Linked DNA regions of Homo sapiens: region 2 is reported to be linked to region 1. Evidence: microRNA targets listed by miRTarBase, many of them from high-throughput screens and not tested one by one. Region 1 holds a microRNA gene; the other region holds the end of a gene's coding sequence.

Region 1 (3,151 bases):
CTACTGCTCAACATCAATTTCTGGCAAGGAAATCTAATAGGTCATACTAATGTGCCTTGATACAGAAATGTAATTTTTTTTTTTTTTTTTTTTGAGACAGAGTCTCGCTCTGTCGCCCAGGTTGGAGTGCAGTGGCGCAATCTTGGCTCACTGCAACCTCCGCCTCCTGAGTTCACTCCATTCTCCTGCCTTAGCCTCCTGAGTAGCTGGGACTACAGGTGCCCGCCACCATGCCCAGCTAATTTTTTGTATTTTTAGTAGAGACAGGGTTTCACCGTGTTAGCCACGATGGTCTCGATCCCCTGACCTCATGATCCGCCTGCCTCAGCCTCCCAAAGTGCTGGGATTACAGGCGTAAGCCACTGCGCCCGGCCCAGAAATGTAATTTAATCAAACTGAGATATACAGACTTCTCTTTCTGAGGATACCTGAGGGGATATGTGCCAGTCAAGACCTTGGAAATAGCATTTTAATAATTTTTGTTGTTAAAGTTATCCCACATTTAATTATAAATTTGGTTCATCTGATTTGTTTTGTGTTACTGGGTGAATGAGGAAGATAACTGGCCTTGATTTTTCACCCTGAAGAATTACATTTGTTCTTATTCTTTTTATGGAAAAGGATTATCTGTTTCCAGGGATCACCGAGAATTAGAGTTGGGTACAGCTCAAAAGTTTCATGGCAACCTCAGCCTAAGCCATAGTTGATTCTAAATTTCAATATTATTTAGGGCAGATGAATGTGAAACACTTACAGAAGGAATGAGGAAGGGCGATTAAATGTGATAATCTGGGGAGTTGAAGTTTGAGGAGGGCCTGGCAGGAGATCGTCCTCTTTTAGACTGTTTGGAATTTGATGGAGTAGCACCCACAAAGAGAGTGGGAGGAGCTTTCAGAGGGAAAATATTTTGGGTTCAGCTTCTAACACCCAAACTCCCTTGGCTGCAATTTTTTAAAAAACCAAGTAGCACTGAAGGAGCGCAGTAAGTAGCAAGCGAATCCAATAAAGGCAAATTAATTCCCAAGGCTGGTTTCCTTTCCAGCACAACAGCACTTTAGAAAAAGACTTTACTAAGATTAAAAGAGGTTGAGCATGAAACAGTAACCATCGAAACTTTTCCCCCCGTCTTGGTCATGAAATAGAAATTTGGTGTTTAATTTTGGTTGCCATGCAAGTCTTTTGATTCGTGAGGGCTAGGAAATTGCTCTGTTTAGCATAATCCCAGAGACCACTGTGAGGGATTGTATGAACATCTCACAGTTGCCAGCTGAGATTAAGCCAACTCACAGCCATCCGTGTTAGACCTGCAAGAGAAAGTGTATGAGCAGAGGCACGTGGCTGCCTCAGGTGGAAGCACATCTTCATACATCGAGTGCACCAGCAGAAGCCCTGATGTACCCCTCTGCATTTTTCTTGAGGCGACATTATCAAGCTACTCCTCTTGCTGAATTCACAGATTTCTGGCATATGCTATATTGCATGTAATGTCATAAAAGTATAATCTTTGCATTTAGAAAGGATTTACTCTAATCCATATATAGTAAGAAACAGCCAAGTAGGAGTACAGGTGAATGTAAAACCAATCACTAAAAATGATTTTTTAAACAAGCTTTATAGAGAACTTGGAAACATCAAAGCCAAACACTCTAAAATTTGTCCTCAGACAAGAAAACCAGCAATTACGTTGAAAAAGTAATGACCGTATACTCACCAAATGGCCAGATGTGTCAATAGCGGTGGCTATTACCTTTCATAGATGGTGGTATGTCCTCCCCTCTTGCCCACATCACTGTCATGGCTAAGTGAGACTGAGCCATGATCTAAGCCCCTCAGTCCACTGGGTGGGGCTAATCAATGGTAAGAATAATGATTAAGAACGGAAGGAAGAGGAAACGCCCTCAGAGTTTCCCCACCATCTGCCGTGGATGGCATCTCAACTTGAGTGAGTGTAAGAAGCACATAGGAAACTTGTTACAAATGTAGATCCCCAGGACCTACCTCTATATTTTGATTCAGTAGGTCTGGTTTTGGTGGCTGCGATTTGCACTTCGGTGGAGATTTTCCACTGCCTTTCTCCAGCTTCACTTCATACTAGACCATTTCTTCCTCTACATTGTAGACTCCAGCTCTAACAAGTTCTGAGAATCCAATGAGCTGTGTTTGCCCATACTTGGAATTATTTCTTCTTTCTCTCTCCCTCCTCTCTCTCTCTTTCACACACACACACACACACACACACACACACACCCCCTTGTGTGACAGTCACACATTGAAAACTATCACACACTGCCTTCTCTCCCCAGTCTCCCTTTTTTGGCACCTGTAATACACAATGGTGTTTTCTCACTCACATGCTTTCTCCTTCATTGACTGCAAACTTCCAAGTGTTGGCACTGTGCTTATTCATCTCTATATCCTCAACTATACTATTCTCAGTTTAGCATCTGATGTTTAATAAGTGCTCAAAAAAATTTTGTCAAACTAAATCAAATGTTTGTTGAAGCAAAGAATTATGGATTTCAGCTCATAACTTGTCCTTTAATAATTGAGACTTGACACAATTAAGAGAGTGGTAATTTACAGAGTTAGAAAAGTGGCTTTTCGTTTTAAAAGTCAGGTAAATATAAAGTTACAAAACAATTGAGAAAGAACAATTGAATATAATCTTGTGCCTCATATGGACTCCTAAGTACAAAGCTACTTTTGTAAAATAAGAATGTCTCATCATTAGGATTTAACTTTTTAAATATTGTTCTAAGTTTATTTTCTGGAGTCAAATTGCTCAGGATTAAAAATAAGCAGATTTTATCTTAATCAAAAAACAAGGGCTTCTCAGAGCAACATGAATGACGTTCAGTTTTTTCTTTTCTCTTAATCTTATATTTGATTTTCCTTTCTCTCTAGAAAGTTTAATAGTGAAAAGTTACCATAGAGAAGTGACAGGAGTATGTAGTTCTTCTTCCCTCTGCTAGAAAACATTAAGAAAAGATCATAAATGGGAACATCATATGCTGATGTGGAAGATGAGACAGCTTTTTATTAATCTTAAGTTGTCATGTCCACAACTGCACAGGGAGGTGGGCTCTCAATGGAAGCAAAGACATATACGTTTCTGCCTTGCCTACCTTAGTGGGTTGCTGTGATGGGCATT
Region 2 (3,000 bases), not on the chromosome of region 1:
CCAGTGTCAGAAACTTTTCAGGAATATCGCTGGCCTCATTAGGCACCAGAGGACTCATACTGGTGAGAAGCCCTATGAGTGTAATCAGTGTGGCAAAGCCTTCAGGGACAGCTCCTGTCTGACCAAGCACCAGAGAATTCACACTAAGGAGACCCCATATCAGTGTCCAGAATGTGGGAAGTCCTTCAAGCAGAACTCTCACCTGGCAGTACATCAGAGACTCCATAGCAGGGAGGGTCCCAGCCGGTGTCCTCAGTGTGGAAAAATGTTCCAAAAGAGCTCATCCCTTGTTCGACATCAAAGAGCACACCTGGGAGAGCAACCCATGGAAACATAATGGTTGGGGGCCACATGAGTCTTCCAGTTCACTCTCACTCCTGTGTTTAGGAGGCGTGTCTTAGATCTGACTCCTCTCTGGTCAGTAGAAAAGAATCCTTTAAGCTATCCAGTGAATTGATGAATGTGAGACATTGCTGAGCCACACTGTTAAGTCTGCTCATTGGGGAACTCCAGAGACAACTTAGGATGAGGGCAGAAAAGTCTTTGGGGATGATTCAGTCTGTACCAGACATGACAACACACACACTGGAATGAAATGTGCAAACATGGGGGTGACACCACAGAGAGAACCTGTGAATGCATTCAGAACATGATTGGAATGAAGAGCCCTGTAGTAGGGAGTTTCCACCTTGTACGTAAGCAAACACTGAATCAACTTTTTTTTTTTTTTCGGACAGAGTCTCACTGTGCAGTGGCATGATCTCCACTCACAGCAACCTCTGCCTCCCAGGTTCAAGCAGTTCTCCTGCCTCAGCCTCCAAAGTAGCTAGGATTACAGGTGCCTGCCACCATGCCTGGCTAATTTTTTCTATTTTTAGTAGAGACAGGGTTTCACTGTGTTGGCCAGGCTGGTCTTGAACTCCTGACCTCATGATCCGCCCACCTCAGCCTCCCAAAGTGTTGGGATTACAGGCATGAGACACTGCCTGGCCTGAATCAACCTTTTTTAAGTGTAATCAGAAAGAGAGGCTTTGGCAGGGGCTCTTACTGTGTTTTCTGTAACAACAAAGGTGTACAATGAGAGAGTCCACACAGTGCTGTACTGCACACACCACAGAATGTGTGAGATTTTCCTGTTTGAATGTATGTCTGCATTATACTCCTGCAATAATGCTGAGGACTCGTTGCAGGAGGGCAAACTAGGTGAATAAATTACCTGTGAATGAACAATGAAGTCGTTCCTCTTAAGACTGAAACAAGCAGGCCAGATGTGGTGGCTCACGCCTGTAATCCTAGCACTTTGGGAGGCCGAGGCGGCCAGATCACAAGGTTAGGAGTTCAAGACCAGCCTGGCCAGCATGGTGAAACCCCATCTCTACCAAAAATACAGGAAATTATCTGGGCATAGTAGTGTGTGCCTGTAATCCCAGCTACTTGGGAAGCTGAGGCAGGAGAATTGCTTGAACCTGGGAGGTGGAGGTTGCAGTGAGCTAAGATCGCACCACTGCACTCCAGCCTGGGTGACAGAGCGAGACTCCATTTCAAAAAAAAAGACTGAAACAAGCTTGTGCTAAGATGGAAAGGGCTGCTTCTAACAGATGTGGTTTGTTGCTTTAGTTGTTGAAGCAAAAATACTGAGTTGTTATGTTTATGTTATCACCCCACCACTACCTCCATGGTTGTTCATTTAGGATGCTTCTAATTCAGCCACTGTGAACCATTATAAAGGTTTTATTGCCATGTTGAAAATGTTTATAATATGGCAAAAAGGGGCATCAAATAGAAGATTTACTATTATTCCAGCCATGTAAAAATATGTGCACATATGGATGTATGTTGAAAGTGGATGATGGAGAAATAAAATGTGGTTTTCTTTGGGGACTGGAATTTTGTATCATATTTTTTTCTCTGTTACAGATACTTGTTGGCATAATAATTTGGTAATAAATTAAAAAGTGAAGCCAAAAGGAGGTTAATTTGGGGTTTCTTTGGACCTTTAGTAGTAGGGACTGGATCAGGGCAACAGGGAAGCTGTAAGTGTGGATGGAGGGGCATTGGGCAGTAGCGTCTCTGGAATCAGCATCCCAAAGCCCAGGGCATGAGAATAACTTCCTTCTTTGGGACTTGGGTTATAAGGGGTTGTCAGTGTAGAAGAGAGAGTGAGTCCCAGAGAATGGAGAACAGGAAGCCTGTAGAAAATTTGGGATGACTTTGGAGTGGCCCTTCCGAGGCAGTGCAGTACTGGCCGAGTGAAAGCCAGTCAAGGTGGATGACACAGCCTTGAAGCCCCATGAGTGGATCCCCTTGGGATTTTGCCTCTAGACAATTTCCTCTCCTGGGAGAAGGGACAGGTGTGACGATAGTGAAGATTAGTGATGAGTCAGTCCAGGACTGGGGTCAGCCAGGCCCATTGTATTAGCTGGATCAAGGTTCATGTGTGTGTGACCTGGTGTCTCCATGGTGCTGGTATTCTGAGGTCCGGACCCTCAGGCCAGCTCGTGGGGAGCTTCAAGCAGCCATGCCTCCTTCTCTGTGTGTGTTCTCTTTTGTCTGGCATCAGCTGTGGCCTCCATGGCACTTGCTGTCTCCCATGAGGCAGCCAACCTTGGTATGCCTCTGATAGCTGTGTCATGGGAAGGGTGGGCAGCCAGTCCTGAGAGAGGAATGAGTAGATAGGTAATGGAGGCACGGAGTGAAGAAGGGAAGAGTGGCCCTGAAAGAGCATTTAGAGAAGTAAAGCTCCCCCACACACATTGGGATATGGTGATCTCATGGTGAGAGGTGCAGGGGCATGGAGGACTAGCGGGGACCCTTGTTGAACCCTCTGGAGTCAGGATGGGATGGTGCTGTGTCCCAGGGTGTGGTGATGGATGAAAGGGGACCAGGCTGACTTGTCTTCTCCAGAGAGTTGCGTTTGAGTATAGCTCACATACAGAAAAGTGCACTGCAGACTCTCCTTGACCCAACTTAAATCAGGATCCCCTGAGCCCTCTGACCTTG

What was found. The annotated mature microRNA hsa-miR-216a-3p reads UCACAGUGGUCUCUGGGAUUAU and lies in region 1 at 1,216-1,237, opposite strand. An mRNA with a match to its seed (bases 2 to 7 or 8) in the 3' UTR can be bound and repressed. Matches are read on the target gene's strand: a 7mer-m8 pairs with bases 2 to 8, a 7mer-A1 pairs with bases 2 to 7 and ends in A, and an 8mer does both.
Region 2: the mRNA of ZNF329 is a reported target of hsa-miR-216a-3p. Seed matches in the 3' UTR shown: 7mer-m8 at 743-749, 7mer-m8 at 893-899 and 8mer at 1,709-1,716.

The regions. Positions count from the first base shown.
Region 1 is chr2:55,987,766-55,990,916 of GRCh38, forward strand. It overlaps MIR216A (microRNA 216a), which reads right to left and starts at 1,294; the gene lies at 1,185-1,294. All of the region lies in intron 2 of MIR217HG (MIR217 host gene), which reads right to left. All of the region lies in intron 3 of LOC105374690 (a long non-coding RNA gene), which reads left to right.
Region 2 is chr19:58,125,215-58,128,214 of GRCh38, reverse strand. It overlaps ZNF329 (zinc finger protein 329), which reads left to right. Exons shown (of 4, transcript NM_024620.4): 4 at 1-1,967. The coding sequence ends at 337. Among named protein-coding and RNA genes, the nearest start is that of ZNF329, 24 kb to the left of the region's middle.